4 linked regions of the Homo sapiens genome follow. The protein of the gene in region 4 purifies or fractionates together with the protein of the main gene of each other region. This does not show direct contact. Each region holds a gene or a part of one and is shown on either strand. Other genes may lie near its edges. The genes, in order: LLPH, NMNAT1, HP1BP3 and H1-8.

Region 1 (6,392 bases), on a different chromosome or scaffold from region 4:
CGCGCCACTGCACTCCAGCCTGGGACACAGAACAAGACTCTGTCTCAAAAAAAAAAAAAGAAAAAAGACATGCAAGGTGCTTTCAGAATTGGTTTGATTTGTAGTTTGCTTATGACCACAAGTTTGATTTGATATCTTGTTATTTAGTGACTGTGTATGTACCATGTTGATCTTCATATAAGTTGCATGTTAAGTCCTAAAAAGTGAACAGATTGAAGAGTTTTACTTTTCACTTGTTTTGTAGAGATACCTGTTGGCCTGGTTTTCTAAGGATTTGCCTGTTTTCTTTTTTATATTAAAGATTTGCTTTTGAATGTGTGTTTTTGTTAACTTCAGGTAAAACATGGCTAAAAGCTTACGGAGTAAGTGGAAAAGAAAGATGCGTGCTGAAAAGAGAAAAAAGAATGCCCCAAAGGAGGCCAGCAGGCTTAAAAGTATTCTCAAACTAGACGGTGATGTTTTAATGAAAGATGTTCAAGAGATAGCAACTGTGGTGGTACCCAAACCCAAACATTGCCAAGAGAAAATGCAATGTGAGGTAAAAGATGAAAAAGGTGAGTGTGCTTCTCCTTTTTCTTTCTCTTTTTTTTTTTTTTTTTTTGAGGCAGGGTCTCCTTCCTCTGTCACCTAGGCTAGAGTGCAGTGGTGTGATTATAGCTTCCTGCAGCCTTGAATTCCTGAGCTGAAGCGGATTCTTCCCACCTCAGCCTTCCAAAGCACTGGGTTACAGGCATGAACCACAGTGCCCAGCCCCTCTGCGCTTCATTTAAAAACAAAAAAAATTCTGTCAAGCCTGTTCATGTATATACATATGTTTTGGATTATTTAGAGTGGGTCTTTGGTGCTTATACAATAGCCTCCATGTCTCAGGAATAAACAGTTCTACAGGAGTAGACAAATCTAGGCATACTCTGGTTGGAAGGGTACACAGTTCACTCAGGGCCTAGGCAGCATAGGTCTTCATTTTACTCTTTGTAAGATCTAATTCCCATTCTATGAGTCCTATGCCCTTATACTATTATCCTGAAAATCACAGGGTTTCACTATTTCATTTTGACAGATTCTAGGAACCTTTGTGTCTTAATCATGAAGTTGGAGGATATATATATAATGCTGCTTTTTGCACATTTAATGCACCAATTTGGCAGCAAACTAAATTAAGTATTTGCAATACCCAGACTTTAAAATAGAAATACATGTATTTGATGTCTTATGCCCAAGGAAAAGAGCAGTATTTCTCAATCTCCCAACCTTAGGGGGTTTTTTCCCTTTAAAAATGGCTGTTTTTAACTTTTTCTTCTTCCCATTTCATCCTTCTCCCACTCTGTATGAATAAAAATTACAAAAAGCATTTTACTTCAACTTCTGTGAGAAAAAGGGGCCAACCAAGAAATATCCTCATCTTTCCACTACCCAAGTCTATAAGAATTCAAATGTTGTATAGTCTGTTTTCCCTTTTTTATTAATGTTCTCTCCAAGGCCAGTTTCTCCACTTGTGTTCTGAATCCTCTCCACCGTTAACATTCTCAGGGGTTGTACTCATGCATCTGCCTTATCAGTCTCCTCCACTGGGTCATTGCCAACAGCATAGATGTGTTCTGGGATGTTCAATGTCAAAAGAAAGAAAGAAAAATTTCTCCCTTGATCTCAAGTTCTCTCAATCTGCTGCTTTATTTCAGCTGTCCTTGAAACTTTTTGAAACACTTGCCTTCACTTGCTGTTTTCATTTCCTCACACACACATCACCCCTCCCTATTGGTTCTTTTTTGTTGTTGTTAAGGCAAAATCCACATAACATAAAATTAACCATTTTAAAGTGTACAGTTCAGTGGTATTTAGTACATTCATGTTGTGCAACCATCACCTCTAGTTCCAAAACACTTTCCTCACCCTAAAAGGAAACTTAATACCCATTAAGAAGTCTGTCTCTCCTCCTCCTACCCCCAGCCTCTGGCAACCACTAATATGCTCTTTTCATGTGTGAATTTACCTGTTTTGAATATTTCTTATAAATGGAATCATATATAATGAGACCTTTGTGCCTGGCTTATTTCCCTTAGCATGGTGCTTTTGAAGGTCACGCACATTGTAGCATATATCAGTACTTCCTTTCTTTTTAAGGCTAAATAATAGTCCATTGCATGTACCACGTTTCATATCCATTCAACGGTTGCTGGGCATTTGGATTTCTTTCCCCTTATGGGTGTTGTGAATAGTGCTGCTGTGAACATTCAGGTGCACAAGGTTTTGTTTGATAAGTGGAATTGCTGGGTCATATGGTAATTCTTTTTAATGTTCTCCACATCAGCCACACTATTTTACATTCCCACCTGCAGTGTTTGAGTATTTGAGTTTCTTCACATCCTCACTAATACTTGTTTTCCATTTTCGGATTATAGCCATCTTCGAGGGTATGAAATAGATTCTCATTGTAATTTTGATTTGAAGTTTCCTAATGACTAATGACATTGAATGAAGTGTTTTTTGGTTTTTGTTTGTTTGTTTTTTGTTTTTTTTTTTTGAGATGGAGTCTTACTGTTGCCCAGGCTGGAGTGCAGTGGCATGATCTCGGCTCACCACAACCTCTGCCTCCCAGGTTCAAGCAATTCTCCTGCCTCAGACTCCCAAGTAGCTGGGAATACAGGCGTGTGCCACCATGCCCAGCTGAATTTTGCATTTTTAGTAGGGTTGGGGTTTCACCATGTTGGCCAGGCTGGTCTTGAACTCCTGACCTCAAGTGATCCACCTGCCTCAGCCTCCCAAAGTGCTGGGATTACAGGTGTGAGCCACCACACCCGGCTGAACATTTTTTCATATGCTGATTGACCATTTGTATTATCTTTTTGGAGAAAGGTCTACTCAAGTCTTTTGCCTCGTTTTTCAATTACGTTGTTTGTCTTTTTATTATCGGGTTGTTAAGAGTTCTTTATATGTTCTAGATACCAGATGCCCACATCCACTCTTGATTCTTTTGGATTGATCCTGTTTTCTTTTCTCTCCTGTTTTCTATTTATTTTGTTATACCCTCTAATTTCCTTGACCTTGAATTCTGGTTCTTATTACTTGGTTTTCTCTTATATTTTTAATTTCTAAAAGTTTTTCTTTTTTTTTTTACTTTTTTTTTTTGAGATGAACTCTCACTCTGTCGCCCAGGCTGGAGTGCAGTGGCATGATCTCGGCTCACTGCAAGCTCCATCTCCCGGGTTCGCGCCATTCTCCTGCCTCAGCCTCCCTAGTAGCTGGGACTACAGGCGCCTGCGATCACACCCGGCTAATTTTTTGTATTTTTAGTGGAGACGGGGTTTCACCATGTTAGCCAGGATGGTCTCGATCTCCTGACCTCGTGATCCACCCGCCTCGGCCTCCCAAAGTGCTGGGATTACAGGCGTGAGCCACTGCGCCTGGCCTACTGTTCCTTTTTCATAGCTTTGTGTTCTTTGTGTTTTGTAAATGCCCCTTGAGTCATCAACTCTGTGTTCTTAATGGGCATATATCTTCTCCTAAGGGTATTAATTACAATTTGCTTTTGAAATTTTTATTTATGGTATGTATTATCTGTCTTTCCTCTTGGAATTCCCTCCCAAGCCCTTCCATTCCTTTACTTTTGTCTCTTTCTTTCATATTAGAAGCTTTTCTCAAATGTCTGGTGATCAGTGGTCATTGTTTGTATTTAAAAGTGTGGCACTACAATGATGATTGGAAGCTGGAGGGAGACAAGGTGTGGGAGAGGGTCTGTCAACTGCTAGATGTATAGAAGATTTGGAATGGCTCCAGGAGGTTTTATTCGGAGATCTCCTGTATCAGAATCTGTTAAGTCTTTTTTTTTCCTCATCATCCCCAGAGAGAAATTATCTTATGTCCTGCCTGGGGAATTCTGGATGCCCTTATTCTTAGATATTTTAGGAGCTAAAGGGTGGTGAGACTGAGACTGAGGGAGTCTCCCCATTTAGTAATCTATTTGTTATCAATTTGGCTCTCATCTCTACCCTCAAGTTCATGTTTTTCCTTATTTCTACTCTTTCAACTGCCTGCCTGATTTCTTAAGCCATAAACCTAGTAGTCATCCTTGATTCCTCTTTCCTTTATTCCCCACATCTAAACCATTAGCAAGTCTTACTGATTGTCCCAAAAATACATTAGAAATCTGTATCCATTTTTTTCCTGCTTTCACCTTGATTCAGAAGGCCGTCATCTCTTGCCTGTACTATTATAGGAGCCTTTTTACTTCTCTCTTCCGCTCTTGTTCCCTTCTCATTTATCTTCTACATATCCACCAGTGTGATCTTTTCAGAAGGTAAATCAGTTTATATCACTGCCATGCTTAAAAACCTCATTATCTTAACATGTTCTTACCAGCGCCTACCAGTTCTTTTTTTTGCGGGGAGACAGGATCTCACTTTGTTGCCCAGGCTGGAGTATAGTGGCTGTTCACAGGCGTGACCAAGCCCACAACATCCTTGAACTCCTGGCCTCAAATGATCCTCCCACCCCAGTCTCCCGAATAGCTGAGACTACAAATGCCTATAGATACTATACCTGGCTGAGGTTTTCTTTCTGTTTGCTGTGTTATTCTCCCGTCAACAGAACACTGTAAACTCCGTGAGGGCTAGGAGTTCATATGGACCACTATATCCCCATAAACTAGAACAGCACCTAAAATAATCATTCAACACCTAGTTATTGAGTGGCTGTTATATACCAGACACTATTCTAGATACTGTGGAAACAATGGCAAATATCTAATATAATGCCAGGTAGTCGAGATAATAGAAGACTTTGTGTATCCTGATAAGGAGGTCCCAGTGAGGGACTCTGAGCATGTCCTTCACAGTGGAGAAGGTGATAGGTGTACCACAGCATGTTTGCACTGAGCTTCCTGCCAAGTCTCCTATCAGTAGAGCTGGATCTCTGGGTGTTACCTAGCTAGGAAAAGTATGCCAGCCCCAGGATGTGTCCAGGTCTTCTCTGTTGAGTGCCTGTCTCTGCCATTACAACCCTGCTGCTGACTACTCCATCGAGTTCATTAGAAGTTCGTTCTCAGTTCATTATAATTTAGTTCAAGTTCTTAAGAAATGGCCAGTCATTCCTAATCAGTTCATTACATCTAAGGTGTATCCCTTAGAAGTGTAGGTATGCTTACTGAACTCAAGGAATCACTTAATATGAGAAATGTTGTTGTAACTCACATGTGCTCAGAACCATATATCTACTAATGTACTAACTCAGAGCCATGCATCCTAAATGTTTCCTATTTAACATTACTATTCTAAGGAAGGACAGTCATGCCAACATTCTTTATAAAGTTTTTTTCTTCTCTATTTTCGGTCTACCTTCAGTTCTAATGTTCTGATGTTCTCAGTGCATTAATATGCTTTCACAGGGTGGTTTTTTTCATACATGGTGTTAATAGTTTTTCCATCTTTTTATGCAGATGACATGAAAATGGAGACTGATATTAAGAGAAACAAAAAGACTCTTCTAGACCAGCATGGACAGTACCCAATATGGATGAACCAAAGGCAAAGAAAAAGGCTGAAGGCAAAGCGAGAGAAAAGAAAGGGGAAAAGCAAAGCAAAAGCAGTGAAAGTGGCAAAGGGTTTGGCCTGGTAGACTCTTAAAACCTTGGAAAATGCCACATGGGATAGATGACGGATTAGAATGTATACACATGTATACTTTGATTTCAACTGCCACCAAATGAAAACCATTTGTTTTCCTATTTTAACTTGGCCTTTTTTCTTCAATTCAAACCCAGCATAACTCCTCAAGTTTGTTTTGGGAACTTGAATAAAATATTTTCTTTGATACATCCAAGCTCTACTGATACTTTAACTGGATGCTACCCAATATCCAGTTATAATCAGGCCTCAACGTTCTGTCAGGTATTAATATGGTTAGAATTGTTCTTACAACTGGTAATTATAGTCAATAGAGATAAAACAGATGATGTACTGACAAATTTTTGTGAACTTAGATTTTAAAGAAAGTTGTTGTATAATCATATCATTTAAAAATACTACATTAGGGCTGGGCATGGTGGCTCACACCTGTAATCCCAGCACTTTGGGAGGCCGAGGCAGGTGGATCACGAGGTCAGTTCGAGACTAGCCTGGCTAATACAGTGAAACCCCATCTCTACTAAAAATACAAAATTAGCCGGGCATGGGGGCGCGCACCTGTAGTTCCAGCTACTCGGGAGGCTGAGGCAGGATAATTGCTTGAACCCAGGAGATGGAGGTTGCAGTGAGCCAAGATTGCCCCACTGCACTCCACCCTGGGCAATGGAGTAGGACTCTGTCTCAAAAAAAAAAAAAATAATGGATCTTATAAAGTACTTGTGTGGAGCTTTGATTCCACAGAATAAAAGATATTTTGTGTGTAGATCTTCAAGT
Region 2 (6,392 bases), on a different chromosome or scaffold from region 4:
TTAAAGACTAATTTTTGTAGAGATGGGGGTCTTGCTATGTTGCCCAGGCTGCTCTCAGACTACTGGTCTCAAGCAACCCTTCCACCTCAGTCTCTCAAAGTGCTGGGATTACAAGCATGAGTCACCACGCCCAGCCCAGTTATAGGTCTTTTGATGTCCTTCCACATTCTCATTCCCAATAGATGGATTAAAAGTATTTGGCTTTGGCTGGGCGTGGTGGCTCACACATGTAATCCCAGCACTTTGGGAGGCTGGGGCGGGTGGATCATGAGGTCAAGAGATCAAGACCATCCTGGCCAACATGGTAAAACCTCGTCTTTACAAAAAATACAAAAATTAGCTGGGTGTGGTGACAGGCACCTGTAATCCCAGCTACTTGGGAGGCTGAGGCAGGAGAATCACTTGAACCCAGGAGGCGGAGGTTGCAGTGAGCCGAGACTGTGCCACTGCACTCCAGCCTGGCGACAGAGAGAGACTCCATCTCAAAAAGAAAAAAAAAATTGGCTTCAATCATTATGCTAACTCTAAAAATGTTTCCACATCTCCATCCCTCCTTTTCAATGTGAATCTGCAACTTCTACCATGAAGAGATGGAAGTGACTTCTCCACATTTTTTGACTTGCTTTGGGCAAAAGAATGTGGCACAAGTGTTAGTGTGGAGGATGCCAGAACATGTGGGAGAGCACCGATGCTCCCACTGATAGACAACCACCCCACATGTGGGGAACATAGCCATCCCCGACCAGCCAACTACAGTCCATCTGCTCAGACACATAAGCAAACCCAAGTGAGATCAACCAAACCTGGCTCAGATCGTCAAGCCAACAAGCTGACCCTAGTCTCAAAAACAAAAAATTAGTGTTCATTATCATATGTCACTCAAGTTTTGTGATTGCACTATTGTGGCCACAGTTAATTAATACAACAATATTATCATCTACCAAATACAGCATTTTTGCCTTTTAGTCAACATGATAGTAACATCATAACTTTCCACTAAATAATAGAATATAATTTACAAACCTCTTTTTCATATCAGTTATTCCACTGATCCTTCCATAACCCTAATGAAGTAACATAAGGCATCCAATTTTAGGTTTTTATTAAAATTTCTTTTTTTTTTTTTTGAGACGGGAGTCTCACTCTGTTGCCCAGGCTGGAGTGCATTGGCGCGATCTCAGCTCACTGCAAGCTCCGCCTCCCAGGTTCACACCATTCTTCTGCCTCAGCCTCCCGAGTAGCTGGGATTACAGGTGCCTGCCACCACACCTGCCTAATTTTTTGTATTTTTAGTAGAGACGGGGTTTCATCATGTTAGATGGTCTTCATCTCCTGACCTTGTGATCCGCCTGCCTCAGCTTCCCAAAGTGCTGGGATTACAGGCGTGAGCCACTGCGCCTGGCCTAAAATTTCTTATTCAACTAATTCATATATATAGATCTAGAACATCACAGGGTAAAAAAGGCCCTTAATGAAAACCAACAGCCATCAATCATATTCCACTCATCATCCCTTCCATCCAACCACTTTTAACTTTTTCAGCTATTTCTTCTGGTAGTTTCTACCATAACTCTACATTATGTGCTTATAATGCCATTTCTTAATTTATCCAACTATAACAGTGCCCATTGACTTTATGATCTATAAAGATTAGCCCTCATACCCTTTGACTACCTTCTCCCAAACTGCCCAATATAGTTTATCTCCAGACTATGTTGAAAATCATCTTCTCTCACAACTTCAAAGGCATTACTTCTAGATTCCAATGTTAATAGCATGAAATCCAAAGCCACTTCTAATTCCGGAGCTTTTGAATGTCATTTTTTTCCTGTCTTGAAGCATGTAAGGTCTTCTCTTTGTCCGCAGTGTTCTGAAATTTCACAGTGCTGTCCTCTAGTGCAGCTTTGTTTCTATCCATCATGCTGAGCACAGGGCAAGCAGGTCCTTTCAGTCTGGAAACTTGTAACATTCAGTTCTAGAAAATGTCCTTGAGTTCTTTCATTGATGATTTTCTGCCTCCCATTTTATCTGTTCTTTTGAAATGTCTATTATTTATTTATTTTTTTGAGACAGAGTCTCCCTCTCTCACCCAGGCTGGAGTGCAGTGGCACGATCTCAGCTCACTGCAACCTCCACCTCCCAGGTTCAAGCAATTCTCCTGCCTCAGCCTCCCAAGTAGCTGGGACTACAGGCATGCACCACCACACCCAGATAACTTTTGAATTTTTAGTAGAGATGGGTTTCACCATGTTAGCTAGGCTGGTCTCGAACTCCTGGCCTCAAGTGATCCACCCACCTCAGCCGCCCATGAACCACTGTGCCTGGCCTGAAAATGTCTATTATTTAGAGCTGAAGCATCTAATCATTTTTTCTGTATTTTCCACCTCCTGCCTTCATGCTCTAATTTCCTGATAGCCTCAACTTCATCCTCCAATCTGCCTAGTTTTCACTTCTGCCATTACACTCTTAATTTCCAAGAGCCCTATCCTCTGAATACTCCTGTTTATGGTATTCTACTCATTTCCCCAACAGATTATCATCTCTATTTCTCTACCAATATTCATGATATATTTTAAAGTTTCTTCAAAAAGAGCTGATGGGACAGGCTGAGTGGGTAGGTAGGGCTTGTGCACAGGGGCCATAACTGTTCAGTAACCTGTCAGTACCGCAGGTCTTTTTGCTTGGATTAGTCAGACTCTACAAGAAAGTATCCTACAATTTCCCGCCTATATAACAGAAGAGTTAAGAGCCTATGCTCTGATATTAGGCTGCCTGGCTTCAAATTGCAGCTCCAACGGCATGACCTTGGGCAACCTAACCCTAACTTAACCTTCCTTTTGTGCCAGGTTTTTTCTTTGGCTTTTTTTTTTTTTTTTTGAGACAGAGTCTCGCTCTGTCACCCAGGCTGGGGTGCAGTGGTACGATCTCAGCTCACTGCAACCTCTGCCTTCCAGGTTCAAGCAATCCTCCCTGCTTCAGCCTCCCAAGTAGCTGGGATTACAGGCACGTGCCACCACACCTGGCTAATTTTTTTTTTTTTTTTTTTGAGACAGAGTCTCGCCCTGTCGCCCAGGCTGGAGTGCAGTGGCATGATCTCGACTCACTGCAAGCTCCGCCTACTGGGTTCATGCCATTCTCCTGCCTCAGCCTCCCGAGTAGCTGGGACTATAGGTGCCCGCCACCACTCCTGGCTAATTATTTTTTGTATTTTTAGTACAGACGGGGTTTCACCATGTTAGCCAGGATGGTCTTGATCTCCTGACCTTAAGTGATCCACCTGCCTCGGCCTCCCAGAGTATTGGCATTACAGGCATGAGCCACAGTGCCCACCTTGTCCCAGTTTTTAATCAATCTTAAAAAGGAGAAAATAATACTACCTACCTCCTGATTGTTGTGAGGATTAAATGAAACAATACAGATCCAAGACATAGAACTACATTTGGCAGGCCAGGCGCGGCGGCTCACGCCTGTAATCCCAGCACTTTGGGAGGCCAAGATGGGCAGATCACGAGGTCAGGAGATCGAGACCACCCTGGCTAACATGGTGAAACCCCATCTCTACTAAAAACACAAAAAAATTAGCCAGGCGTGGTGGCGGGCACCTGTAGTCCCAGCTACTCGGGAGGCTGAGGCAGGAGAACGGCGTGAACCCAGGAGGCGGAGCTTGCAGCAAGCCAAGATCGTGCCACTGCACTCCAGCCTGGGCAACAGAGCGAGACTCCATCTCAAAAAAAAACAAAAAAAAAAACTACATTTGGCAAATAGCAAACATGCTATGAATATAGCTATTATGAATGTTGCAAATTATGTTACTAGAATTGTCTTTTGTTTTTTGATTTTTGAGACAGTATCTCACTCTGTTGTCCAGGCTGGAGTACAGTGGTACAATCTCAGCTCACTGCAACCTCCATCTCCCAGGCTCAAGTGATCCTTCGACCTCAGCCTCCCAAGCAGCTGGGACTACAGGCATGCACTGGCTAATTGTTTTTTTGTATTTTTTGTAGAGATGGGGTTTTGCCATATTGCCCAGGCTGGTCTCAAACTCCTGGGCTCAGAATCTCGAAGCGAACCTGTCCACTTTGGCCAATTCCAAAGTGCTGGGCTTACAGGTATGAGCCACTGTGCTCAGCAAGCAATTTTTTTTTTAATCAACAAAACATCAATTTCAAATGGTTTAATTTACAATTGCTATTCTATTCAATCTGTTTTTTTCCCAGAGGATTTTCTTTCTGGAACTCTCCTCCTCTTATCCAGATGAAAAATCTCTATTTGTGAAGCTATTATTCTGAAAACTTCTTCATCTCTTTCCTGGGTTAGATCCCCTATTTATTTCTCGCTTTGCTTTCTAATCTTTCTGGAGCGTATCCTCAAGCGTTTCATGATAAAGGGTTGATCTCTCATACACCCTTTATCATGAAACTACTTGAGAATATGCTCCAGTAGGATTCGTGGGAGATCAAGTAAGTTTGATAGGCGCATGGGAGATCAAGTAAGTTCGACGATGTTGTTATTCTTCCTTCAATTATTAATGGCTTGAGAAAATTCTTTTCAACTCAATAATTTCAAATAATTTTTTTTTTGCGGGGAGCCGGGGGGACTTAGTTTCACTCTGTCACCCAGGCTGGAGTGCAGTGGAAAGATCTTGGCTCACTGCAACCTCTGCCTCCCAGGTTTAAGCAATTCTCCTGCCTCACCCTCCTGAGTAGCTGGGATTATAGATGCCTGCCAACATGCCCAGCTAATTTTTGTATTTTTAGTAGACACAGGGTTTCACCACTTTGGCCAGGTTGGTCTTGAACTCCTGACCTCAGGTGATCTGCCCGCCACGGCCTTTTAAAGTGTTGGGATTACAGGCTCGAGCCACTGTGCCCAGCCCAAATAATTTTTGAAATTATTCTTTTAAGATTATAAAGGCACTTCTTCATTGTTTGCTGGCATTCAACATTGCTGTTGAAAGTCTGAGGTCATTCTAATCCTTGTTCCTTTATGTGTAACCTGCTTTTACTTTCTAGAAGATGTGTAGTATATTATCTTATCCCTAGTACTCTGGAATGCCCAGTGATGACAGTATCTTTTTCATTCATTGTACAGAACCTTTTAAATGCTGCCTACTAGTTTTCAACAAGTTAAAAAAATAACTTTGCTATTGTAAAGGTTTTCAAATAAATATTTGTATATAATTATATATACATACTTTTTTTTTTGAGACTAAGTCTCACTCTGCTGCTCAGGCTGGAGTGCAGTGGCAAAATCTTGGCTCACTGCAATTTCCATCTCCTGGGTTCAAGCGATTCTCCTGCCTCAGCCTCCTGAGTAGCTAAGAATACAGGTGCCTGCCACCATGCCCAGCTAATTTTTGTATTTTTAGTAGAGATGGGGTTTCACCATGTTGGCTAGGCTGGTCTTGAACTCCTGACCTCAGGTGATCTGCCTGCCTCAGCCTCCCACAGCGTTGGGATTACAGGCGTGAGCCACCGCGCCCGGTCAATAATATTTATAAATAATTTCTTTCTGTTTTGAGATGGAGTCTCCCTCTGTTGCCCACGGTGGAGTGCAGTGGCACGATCTCAGCTCACTGCAGCCTCTGCCTCCCAGGTTACAGTGATTCTCCTGCCTCAGCCTCCCAAGTAGCTGGGACTACAGGCATGCCCCACCATGCCTGGCTAATTTTCGTATTTTTGGTAGAGACGGGGTTTCACCATGTTGGCCAGGCTGGTCTCAAACTCCTAACCTCAAGTGATCTGACTGCTTCAGCCTCCCGAAGTGTTGAGATTACAGGCGTGAGCCACCGTGCCCAGCCAAATACTTCTGAATAAAATTTTTTTTTTTGAGAAAGGATCTCGGTGTGTTGCCCAGGCTGGAGTCCAATGGCATGATCACAGGTCACTGCAGCCTCTGCCTCCTAGGCTCAAATGATCTTCCTGCCTCAGCCTCCAAGTAGCTGGGACCACAAGCACATGCCACCACACCTGGCTATATTTTTTAAATCTTTTGCAGAGACAGGGTCTCACTATGTTGTCAAGGTGGGTCTCAGATTCCTGGCCTCCTGCCTCAGCCTCTCAAAGGGATTACAGGCATGAGCTACTGTGCTTGGACTTCAAAATAAATATTCTTGGCCAGGTGCGGTTGCTCACACCTGTAATCCCAGCACTTTGGGAGGTCAAAGCAGAGAGATCGCTTGAGGTCAGGAGTTCAAGACCAGCTTGACCAACATGGTGAAACCCCATCTCTACCAAAAATACAAAAATTAGCGAGTGTGGTGGCGCACACATGTAATCCCAGGTACTTGGGAGGCTGAGGCAGGAGAATCACTTGAACCTGGCAGGCAGGGGTTGCAGTGAGCCGAGACTGCACCACTGCACTCCAGCCTGGGTGACAGAGCGAGACTCTGT
Region 3 (3,500 bases), on a different chromosome or scaffold from region 4:
ACCTTTTTAATTCATTTATAGTACCCAGTTTTTAAAGAAGATTTATTTTGTAAAATTTTGCTTATGGTACATGTCATCTTAGCCTGTAAATAAATTAAAGCATTAATTTTTATCCCTCCCTGGTCTTTTCCTCCTTCTGACTTTATACGTCTTTCTAGAGAGCTTATCTTCTATAATAACAATTCTTTGTTTTAAAGTGAGAAAGATCAGTCTAAAGAAAAGGAGAAGAAAGTGAAAAAAACAATTCCTTCCTGGGCTACCCTTTCTGCCAGCCAGCTAGCCAGGGCCCAGAAACAAACACCGATGGCTTCTTCCCCACGTCCCAAGATGGATGCAATCTTAACTGAGGCCATTAAGGCAAGTTTTTATTTCAAGCAATTCATCTTAGATTTATTATGTTCATTTTTTTCTTATTTGAAAATGGCATATATCTGTCTAGACATCATAAATCTTGTTCTGCTTCCTAAAGGAGTTTTAAAGAGAGGAAAGTCATTATAAGTTCATGTTTTTCTAATATAATCACATTTGGTGAACACTGTTAATTTTTTTAAAAAAATTATATTTAATATAGCAAATATTTTAACTTTAGAATTTTTAAATGCAGTTTATCGATTAAGTACAGTTTTTATTTGAAGGCTGAAAATGTTAATTCATTGAACAAACATTTAAGGACTACCTTCCTCTGTTGGGCGCCCCTGCTAGTGGTGAATTAACTAAGGCTAGCAAAGTCCTTGCCCTTATAAATCTAATTGTGACTCAGTAACTGAAAAATATTGAGAATTTTTGTTTAAAAAATATCTCTAGGTTCATTTCTAAAGCTAAGTGATCTTGGTAGTGGTTATCTTTCACACCTGAACCCTGTTAATAAACACTGCTTTATTACCTAGACATTCCAAAATGCTTACAAAAATTATCCTCCTTACATAGATTTATGATTTCATTGACTTTCATTAGATGTAGTTTTCCTATTTTAATTTTTAAAGGTTATCTTCTAATTTGACATTGCCTTTATTGTATAAGTCTTTTCATTTAATTTTGCCTTGTTTAGTTCATATGATCAGATGATAAGAGGAGTTAGAACAGACCCATCTTTCAGGGACCCTGTTGTTAGGATCTGAGGCAGGACTGGGGAGACAGGGATACAGATGATTTTAACCAGAAAAGGGGGGATGTGTACGAAAAGGAGCAGCCTGGTTGTCATTCTCAGAATATGAGAAGATAGCACTAACACATAAACTGGAAAAAGGGTTTGCCTTCAGACTTCTCCCTTTACTCCTTCAAGACTTCTTATGCTCTCACCTCATTAAGAAAACTTTATTGGTCTAGATTACCTCACTGTAGTGAAATCTCTGTTCTTTGTATAGCCTTTCTTCAAGGATTTCACTTGATGACCACTCAGCCTGGGTTTGAAGGAGCAGCATCATAGTGAGGATGGAAAAAGGGCTGAAACTTTAAAATAGTGAAATAAAAAATTAAAACAATATCAATTTGGCTTAAAGAATGGTTTGAATATAATTGTGCATATTTATGGAGATGATTGATTTTATATAGATAATGTGTATTCCATGCAATATGACAAATTATTGTTTCAGACCATGGATACCATTTTCTGTATTGAACAGGAATCATGATGTCTACTACCATCTCACTGTCGGATTGGTGGAGCAAAAGATTATTTGTTTCAGCATTAGTGTTCTTTTCTGCTTGATTTTCTTTGCTCTGTGTTTTCTTTTAAGATCAGGAGTAAACCTCAGTAGGTCATTAATAGTTCAGAGACATAGACTTGAATTACATGACCCATATTAATACAACTTGTTTCGTGTTGTGCAATCTTTTCTGGACCATCTACCTGTGAGTTATTTTTCTTTGTTGTCAAAATGTATAAAAACATTCAACGAAGTTCTTATCCAATGAGAATGAATAAGTGCTACATTGATTTAATAGACACTGTGGCAGTACAAAATTGATGGACTAGCTCATTAGATAAATGACAGATGCTACTTTTGTGTGTTTCAAAATTTAAAGTATTTGATTTCAAGTCAGTGACCAGTTGGAAAACAAAATTTTAAGCATTTGAAAAAAATTAAGTATTTGCTGCCTTTGTGACATAATGAGCTACTTAATTCTTCCAGGTGCATTAGTCAAATGGAGTATAAGTAAAATAGGATGGAAATGGAAGAGGGCACATTAAATTCAAATAGAACACCTTCACTATTACCCAAAACTCTCCTTCAGCACTTTGCCATCTGTAAACCCATTTTTATGCCACTTATTCAGATTATCTTTGATTCTTCTTTCTGCTGACATTCATACAGAGCCTTCAGGGAAATGTCCTGGCATGCTCATTCCTTAAGCTCGTGCCTTAAAATGGGACAGATCTGTGATCCTGTAAGTGATAGGTTTGTTCTGCTTTTCTCATTTTGATGCCAAAGATTCATCTTCTAAATACAGAATGGAATTAAAATGGAAAGAGGTTCTTCATTATACATAGAATGTTGTTCGTGTTCAGTATGGTCTCTTAGGCTGTTTTGAACAATTTAAAATTGTAGTAGAAATATTTAGTAATTCTGTTACTTCTCTGTAGTCATTATGAACTGAAGTCTTCTGAAGTTCATTCTTCCCTACCGTTTTTGTCATCTATCATCAAATTCACTTCCAAAATAATTTATTTTGAAAATATATGTCAGGCTCTATCTAATAAAAAAAAACAACTAGTTTAATAAATCTTTTCTAGGCATGCTTCCAGAAGAGTGGTGCATCAGTGGTTGCTATTCGAAAATACATCATCCATAAGTATCCTTCTCTGGAGCTGGAGAGAAGGGGTTATCTCCTTAAACAAGCACTGAAAAGAGAATTAAATAGAGGAGTCATCAAACAGGTATTACACAATTGTTAGTAGTAAGATCATTTCATTGTGTATTAGCTTTAAGTCTACAGTTAGTAACATTTAGGCTTTTTGTGCCTTTTTTGTTAAAAATAAGTTTCATGATGATGAAATTCCTTAAGTTTAACCTAGTTGAATTATCTGAGGCTAGGTTTCGAAAATGCTGGTGCCATTAAGATAGTGTAACTTTTTTCTAGCTTACTTTGCTCTTAATTGGATATTTTTTGGGGGGCTGCTTGTGCTTGAAATCATGTAGCACTGAACATGAAAAAGAGGTAAGGAATCCTACTACTGAAACAGCAAAAATGAGGCTAGGGATGGTGGCCTACACCTGTAGTCCCAGCACCTTGGGAGGCTTAGTTGGGAGGATCACTTGAGCCCAGGAGTTCGAGACCAGCCTGGGCAACATAGCAAGACCCCTTCTCTACAAAAAATACAAAATCAGCAGGGTTTGGTGACACATGCCTCTAGTCCCAGGTACTTGGAAGGCAGAGGCAGGAGGACCGCTTGAGCCTGGGAGGTTGAGGCTATTGTGAGTTACGATCTCACCACTCCAGCCTCGGTGAGAGTGAGACCCTGTCTGAAAACAAAAAGGAATAACAGAAATAATAATTGC
Region 4 (7,031 bases):
TCCCCAGCCTGCAGCGCCTCCAGCACCATGCGTAGCACCGGGGGGTGGCGGCGTCCCACCGGGAGGCTGCTGTGGCTCGGGCCTCCTGGTGGGACACCGCCGTGGCTCGGGCCTGAGGAGAGATGGCAGGCCATCACCCGGGGCCCAGTCACAACTCAGTGGCAGGCATCAGCTGGCCCGTGGGGGGTGGGTGAGGGTCCAGCAAGGATCAGATGCCCCCCTCTCCCCAAGACACTGACCGCTGGCATGGGAGCTCCCGGATGGTCTCCCCTCAAGGCTCACTGAGTCTCTCTCTCTTTTTTTCTTTGAGACACTGTCTCTCTATGTCCCCAGGCTGGAGTGCAATGGCGTGATCTCAGCTCACTGCAACCTCCACCTCCTGGGTTCAAGCAGTTCTCCTGCCTCAGCCTCCCAAGTAGCTGGGATTACAGGCGCTGCCACCATACCTGGCTGATTTTTGTATTTTTAGTAGAGACAAGGTTTCACCATGTTGGCCAGGCTGGTCTTGAACTCCTGACCTCATGACCCACCCGCCTCGGCCTCCCAAAGTGCTGGGATTACAGGCTTGAGCCACCGTGCCCAGCCAAATCTCTCTTTTTAAAGAATGGAGTATTCCTTTAGAAAAACAATCTAAATTGGGTGAATTTCGTAACTGTGGGTTTACAGGACCTCCGGGGGCTATGTGCACATTCTCAGAGGCACCCAGACTGAGAGACTCTCCAGGGCACACAGCCGGGTTTCTTCCACAAATAAGGGGGGAAAGAAAAAGTGGGAGGGGCACCCTATGGACTAAAGGTCCTTAGGAAACCTCTCAACCAAATGCTCATTCCCAGAGCAGGATTTGAACAATCCAACTGGAAAAAGAAAGGCAACAGATAAATGTGAGCACTGGAAGGAAATATCGGATATTAGGGATAATATTGTTTCAAGTGTGCTAATGGTATTACAATTGCTTTTTAAAAGGCTCTTATCTGTTAAAGGTAAATATTATAAAAGATATTTACAGATGAAATGATACATAAATCCAGCATTTGCTTTGAAATAACCCAGCAGATGAAACAAGAGTGTCCACAAGATGGTGACTGTTGGAGCTGGGTGACGGGTACAGTGGAAGGGAGTTACAGACCATTTGGTAGTCTACTTTTGTATCCATTTGAAAGTTTTTTGTTTTGTTTTATGGAGACAGGGTCTCAATCTGTCACCCAAGCTGGAGTGCAGTGCCACAATCATGGCTCACTGCAGCCTTGACCTCTCCAGCTCAAGTGATCCTCTTGCCTCAGTCTCCGAAGTAGCTGGGACCACAGGCACACACCACCACGCCTGGCTAATGTTTGTATTATTATCATTATTATTATTATTATTATTATTATTATTATTATTGTTATTGTTATTTGACACAGGTCTCACTACATTGCTCAGTTTAGTCTCAAACTCCTGAGTTCAAGCTATCTTCCCACCTCAGTCTCCCAAAGTGCTAGGATTACAAGCATGAGCCACCATGCTCGGCCCTGAAAGTTTTCATAATAAAAAGTTACCAAAAAATTCCACTCTTCGGTATATACCTGAGGGAAATGAAAACGCATGTCCACACAAAAATGTACACATGAATGTTCATAGCAGCACTATTCATGTCGGCCCAAAGATGGAACCAGCCCAAACATCCATGATGAATGATTGACAGATGGATGAACAAAATGTGGTCGCTACCCATCCCGTGGAATATTATCCAGCCATACAAAGGAGTGAAGCCCTGGCTACGACATGGAGGAGCCCTGAAACATGCAAAGTGAAAAAAGGCAGTCAGAAAAAGCCACATACTGTCTGATTCCATTTATATGAAATGTCCAGAATAAGAAGTCCATAGATGCAGAAAGCAGATTGGTGGTTGCCAGGGCTGGGGAGTGGGGGTGGAGAGTGACTGCTAATGGGTACTGGTTTTCTTGAAGTGATGAAAATATTCTAAAATTGATTATAGAGATGGATACACAACTCTGAGTATACCAAAAGCCATTGTACACTTTAAAGGGTGAATTGTATTGTATGGGAATTATTTCTCAATAAGGTGTTATAAAATAGTTGCAAATGAAGTGGGATCAAGGGTGGGGGAAGCATGAGAAGTTGTCAGTCACCATGAAATGCATAAAAGGGATTTAAATATGAAACCGGATTTAAATGTGGTGAATGGAAATGTTGATTTCTGATCAATCTGCAGAATTTAAAGACTTAAATTCTGGGCAATATCGTGAGACCTCGACTCTACGAAAATCTTTAAAAATGAGCAGAGTGTGGTGGTGTGTGCCTATAGGCCTAGCTACTTGGGAGGCTGAGGTGGGAAGATTGCTTGAGCCTGGGAAGTGGAGACTGCAGTGAGCTGAGATCACACCACTGCACTCCAGCCTGGGTGACAAAGCAAGACCCTGTCTCAAAAAAAAAAAAAAAATTGGCTATATTAAAATTTTTTTTCAATAGAAAAAAAAAACCATGAAACTCTAGATCTAGAGCAAAATTATAAAGAGACCTAATCACTTCGACCCCTGTTGGGTCCTGGCCATGACGAGCCCAGTGTGGGAATATTCATTTGGGGGCCAAAGGCGTTGAGCTGGTGTAGTCCTGGGTCACTCCCGGGTTCTCGGGAGTTTCATTCTTCCCTCTAGGCCTCAGTCTTCCCATCCGTACAGTGGGGACGGGGGCCTCTAAGGAGGTCTGAGCCCTCCCAGCTGCAGTGCTACAGGGCTTCCCAAGGGTCTTCGCTTGGCCTGACTTCACGAGCAGCTCCAACCCCTCCTCTGCTTCCCCCAGACCATGTCTGTCCCAGAGAGCCACCCCCAGGAGTCCTCCCTCAGGTCTGTTCCCTCTCATCCCAGCCCCTCATTCGGCAGCTATTCCATGCCTGCTGTATACCAGGATGTCCAGAACAGAGCTCAGCCCCCCAAATCTGCCCCTCCTCTCTCTTCCAGGAATGCCCCATGCCCCCACTGCCCATACCTACCCAACATCCAAGCAAGAACTGGGGGCATTCTGGGCCCTTTCCTCCTCACCACACCCACTCGAGGCCTCCCCATAGGCTTTTCTCTCCATATTCTGGCCTCTCCTCTCCAACTCCCCAGCCCCAGCCTCCTCCCCACTGCCTCTTCCCCACCGCATGCATTCTCCTCGCTGTATCTCACACCCCTCACCTCCCTGCTTGAAACCGTCCATGGCTCCCTGTTCAAGATAAAAGTTGACCTAACTGAAGACCGCCTTGGAGGCCCTCCCACTGCTCCCCTAGCACTGCCCCAGCACTTCCCTCCTTCCCAGAAGGAAGATGCAGCTTCCGAGACAAGCTGCTGGTGCGCTGGCCTCTGGGCCTTAGCCCATGCCGTTTCCTCTGCCTGGGCTGCCTCTCTCCTCCCGGTCATGCAGGCTGCTCTCACTCATCCTTCAAGGCTCAAAATGCACCTTGGTTTGGACACCTCTGACTTCCCAGTTAACTCTGCCCTTTTACTTCTCGGCACCTGGACCCCCTCCCTATCTCCCTAGGTGTCTTGGCAAATAGAACACTTCCCCCGGCTGAGGCACACCCATCCTTCAGGGTCACCTCTTCTAGGAAGCTTTCCCTGACCTCCCAGAGTGGGTTAGAGGACTCCTCTGGGCTCCTCCAGCTCTGGATTACCGCCACTGAAGCACACATCACATTAGCAAACAGCAACAAGCCATGGGCCAGGCTTCCCCATCAGACCGGGAGGTCCTCGAGGGAGTGAACTGGGCCTGGTTTGCCTCGGTGCACCCTCATGTCCAGATAAACCCTGAGGTGTTTTTTGGTTGAAAATCGGAATGCCTAGCCCTGCATAAAATGCTCCTGCCCCAGTCCCTCCAACTAGCTGCCCACAGCTGCAGCCTGGCTACGGGCTACGGTCCCAGCAGGAAACGGGCTCCAGCTGGAAGGCCCTGTGGCTCTTCCCTGAGCGAGGCCGGCCCCAGCCCCCAGGCCCTACCTGGCCTTGCTACCTGTAGATCAGCTCTTCAGCCAAAAGGCAGTTGAGCTCAGCAGCTTGGTGCTGGGTGGGTGCTGGGTGAGTGCTGGGTGAGTGCTGGGTGGGTGCTGGGTAGGTGCTGGGGCCAGGCTGGGAAAGAACGAGAAGCAGGGGTGGAGCATCAAAGGCAACCCAGGGAGTGGGCTCGCAGGGATGAGGGAGGAGCTGCCTCCTCTTGCTCACCTGGCTTTTCAGATTCAGGAGACCTGGATGATCCTGCTGTGGAAGTCGAGGAGGGTGAGATGTCGCTGGTGACGCTCCCAGGAGCCATGAGACCGACAGGTGCAGCCAGCAGACCCCTCACCCGGGTGTGAGGCTGCTGGGCCTGCCCACTAGGCTTATATACCAGCAGCCCACCCCCACCACTCCAATCAGCCCTGATTGGGCTGGGAGTGCTCCAAGCTGCTGACTGGGGCTGGAGGTGTGGAATGGGGCACAGCATCCTGCCTTCTGTAGGGAGCCCCAGCTGGACTACCCACTCCTGTGTAAGCTTGGGGGTGTCGCTTGACTTCTCTGGGTCTCAGTCCCCATGGTGCAATGTTGGGAGCTGAGATGCTTGATCTCGCCTGTGCCCTCTGCCCACCAGGGGCTGGAGATGCTGATGAGGAATTGGGGTCACCTGTGTTGTCAGGGAGGCCGCTGAGGCGGCCCTCTAATCCTACCAGGTGGGCAATGGGCTGCCCCACGCCACTGCTGGCCTCAATTTCTCAAAAAGTAGCAGTTGGAGGCAGCCCAACTGCTACTTTTGCCCAGAGCACATGCCCCTCAATCAGAGTAGCCCCTTCTGAGGCCAGCCAGGCTCTCTGGGCCTATGCCCTCCTTTGGTTTTGTTTTTAAAGAAATAAATCAATAACGGAGGATGCTTCACAAAAGTCTTCATAGATAAGGACAACATCCACTGGGACAATGGACAAAGAATATAAACAGGCAATTCACCAGCCTAAAGGGTGAGGAACAGAAACAGGAAAATGGACACTCAACTTCCTTGGCATTTGAGAAAATTCAAATTGAAACAATGGTGAAATACTACTTTTTCCCATCAAATTGACAGACAAAAAAAAAAAACTTTCCAAGCAAACACCCAAGGCCTGGCTAAATCACACCCTTTCTGCAGAATATTCTGCAGCCATCTAAAATGACAAGGTGGGCTGGTGCGGTGGCTCAGGCCTGTAATCCTAGCACTTTGGGAGGCTGAGGTGGGCGGATCACCTGAGGTCAGGAGTTTGAGACCAGCCTGGCCAACATGGTAAAACTTCATCTCTACTAAAAATACAAAATTAGCTGGGCGTGGTGGTGTGCACCTGTAGTCCCAGCTACTTGGGAGGCTGAGGCAGGAGAATCACTTGAACCTGGGAGCTGGAGACTGCAGTGAACCAGGATCGAGCCATTGCACTCCAGCCTGGGCAACAAGAGCGAAACTGTGTCTCAAAAATAAGTAAATAAAAATAAAATAAAATAATATAATATAATATAAAATGACAAGATGGATTAAAACAAGGATGAGAGGCCAGGCATGGTGGCTCATACCTGTAATCCCAGAACTTCGGGAGGCTGAGGCAGGAGGATCGCTTGAGCCCAGGAGTTCAAGACCAGCCTAGGCAAAAAAGTGAAATCCTGTCTCTACCAAAAAATACAAAAATTAGCTGGGCATGGTGGTGTGCACCTGTAGTCCCAGCTACCTGGGAGGCCGAGGCAGGAGGATTGCTTGAGCCTGGGAGGTCAAGGCTGCAGGGAGCTGTGATCACACCCCTGCACTCCAGCCTGGGCTACAGAGTAAGACCCTGCCCCCCCCAAAAAAAAGGGGGAGGGAAAGAAAAGAAAACAAACAAGAATGAGGCTGTATTTCACACTCAGCAAAATGACAAAGATGTAAGTGTCTATCAATAGTGAGTGACTAGGATTCAAGGAAAGTATAGCTGCTGGGGGGTGGGGAGTGAGCTGGTAGCCGCCTTAGAAAGCAATTCAGCGATGTTTCATACAACTAAGGAGGGACTCACTCCACAACCCACCTATTCCACTCTAGGCGTAGATCTGAGACAAACATATACACTTACGTGCAAAGATGTTTATTTCAATCTTAGCAGAAATTCAAAACAACATAAATGCCCATCAGGTGGAGAGTGAACAAGTAAACTGTGGCCTATTCGCACAGTGGAGTAGTATGCAGTAGTGAAAAGGAGTGAACCAGAATGTATCGGAGAGTACACCCCAACTACTGAGAAGACAAAACTTGCGTGTGTGTGTGTGTGTGTGTGTGTGTGTGTGAAGGCACAATAGTTCTTTTTAATTTTTAAAAAATTTTTTTGTTTTTTTATCTTACCAGTCACAAGCAGTAGAAAAAAGTTCTGAATGGATTCATACCAAGGTAATAGTAGAAGTGGTTACCTCTGAGGAAGGGATGGGTTTTAAACAGCATACATTCTTCTCTAGGTAGTCTCTTTATTGTGGAATTTTCCCAGAGGGCTCTCCATCACCAGAGATCTGGACTCGGGGAGGCTGTGGTCATCAAAGTGTTCTAAAGTGAAGTCAGATTTCACTCCCCCGCTTAGCATCCTGCATGGCTCCCCACTGCCCGTGGGTGAAAGTTCATGCTCTTCAGTCTGACTTAAGGAGCCTCCTCCCCGCTTGAATCCCACAATTCACCCACACTGCGGCTCCTGGAATGGGCCATGTGCTGATATCGGGCCCCTTTTGTCTCCTCTGTGTGTGTTGAATTGATGCAGAACTGCCCCCAATTTTTCACTCCTGCCCATTTGCAATGTAACTTTGCAACCCCTCTCACATTTCTTGTTTGTTTGTTTGTTTTTTGAGACAGGGTTCCACTCTGTCGCCCAGGCTGGAGTGCAGTGGTGCAATCATAGCTCACTGCAGCCTCGACCTTCTGGGCTCAAGTGATCTCCTACTTCAGTCTTCCAAGTGGCTAGGACTCAGGCACATGCCACTATGCCTGGCTAATTAAAAAAAAAATATATATATATATATATATATATATATATATATATATATATATATATATAT

The links.
Region 1: the proteins of H1-8 (region 4) and LLPH purify together in Homo sapiens (affinity purification with mass spectrometry; one large-scale study listed by BioGRID and IntAct). This does not show direct contact.
Region 2: the proteins of H1-8 (region 4) and NMNAT1 purify together in Homo sapiens (affinity purification with mass spectrometry; one large-scale study listed by BioGRID and IntAct). This does not show direct contact.
Region 3: the proteins of H1-8 (region 4) and HP1BP3 purify together in Homo sapiens (affinity purification with mass spectrometry; one large-scale study listed by BioGRID and IntAct). This does not show direct contact.

The regions. Positions count from the first base shown.
Region 1 is NC_000012.12:66,123,058-66,129,449, reverse strand, and holds part of LLPH (protein LLP homolog), read left to right. Parts: intron 1-336; 5' UTR 337-343; coding exon 344-554; intron 555-5,431; coding exon 5,432-5,610; 3' UTR 5,611-6,392. UniProt on the Homo sapiens protein: In hippocampal neurons, regulates dendritic and spine growth and synaptic transmission.
Region 2 is NC_000001.11:9,965,425-9,971,816, reverse strand, and holds part of NMNAT1 (nicotinamide/nicotinic acid mononucleotide adenylyltransferase 1), read right to left. Parts: intron 4,437-6,392; exon of another isoform or gene 4,359-4,436; intron 1-4,358.
Region 3 is NC_000001.11:20,770,308-20,773,807, reverse strand, and holds part of HP1BP3 (heterochromatin protein 1-binding protein 3), read left to right. Parts: intron 1-197; coding exon 198-357; intron 358-2,734; coding exon 2,735-2,878; intron 2,879-3,500. UniProt on the Homo sapiens protein: Component of heterochromatin that maintains heterochromatin integrity during G1/S progression and regulates the duration of G1 phase to critically influence cell proliferative capacity.
Region 4 is NC_000003.12:129,540,472-129,547,502, reverse strand, and holds the start of H1-8 (histone H1.8), read right to left. Parts: upstream 4,329-7,031; 5' UTR 4,285-4,328; coding exon 4,197-4,284; intron 113-4,196; coding exon 1-112. UniProt on the Homo sapiens protein: May play a key role in the control of gene expression during oogenesis and early embryogenesis, presumably through the perturbation of chromatin structure. Essential for meiotic maturation of germinal vesicle-stage oocytes.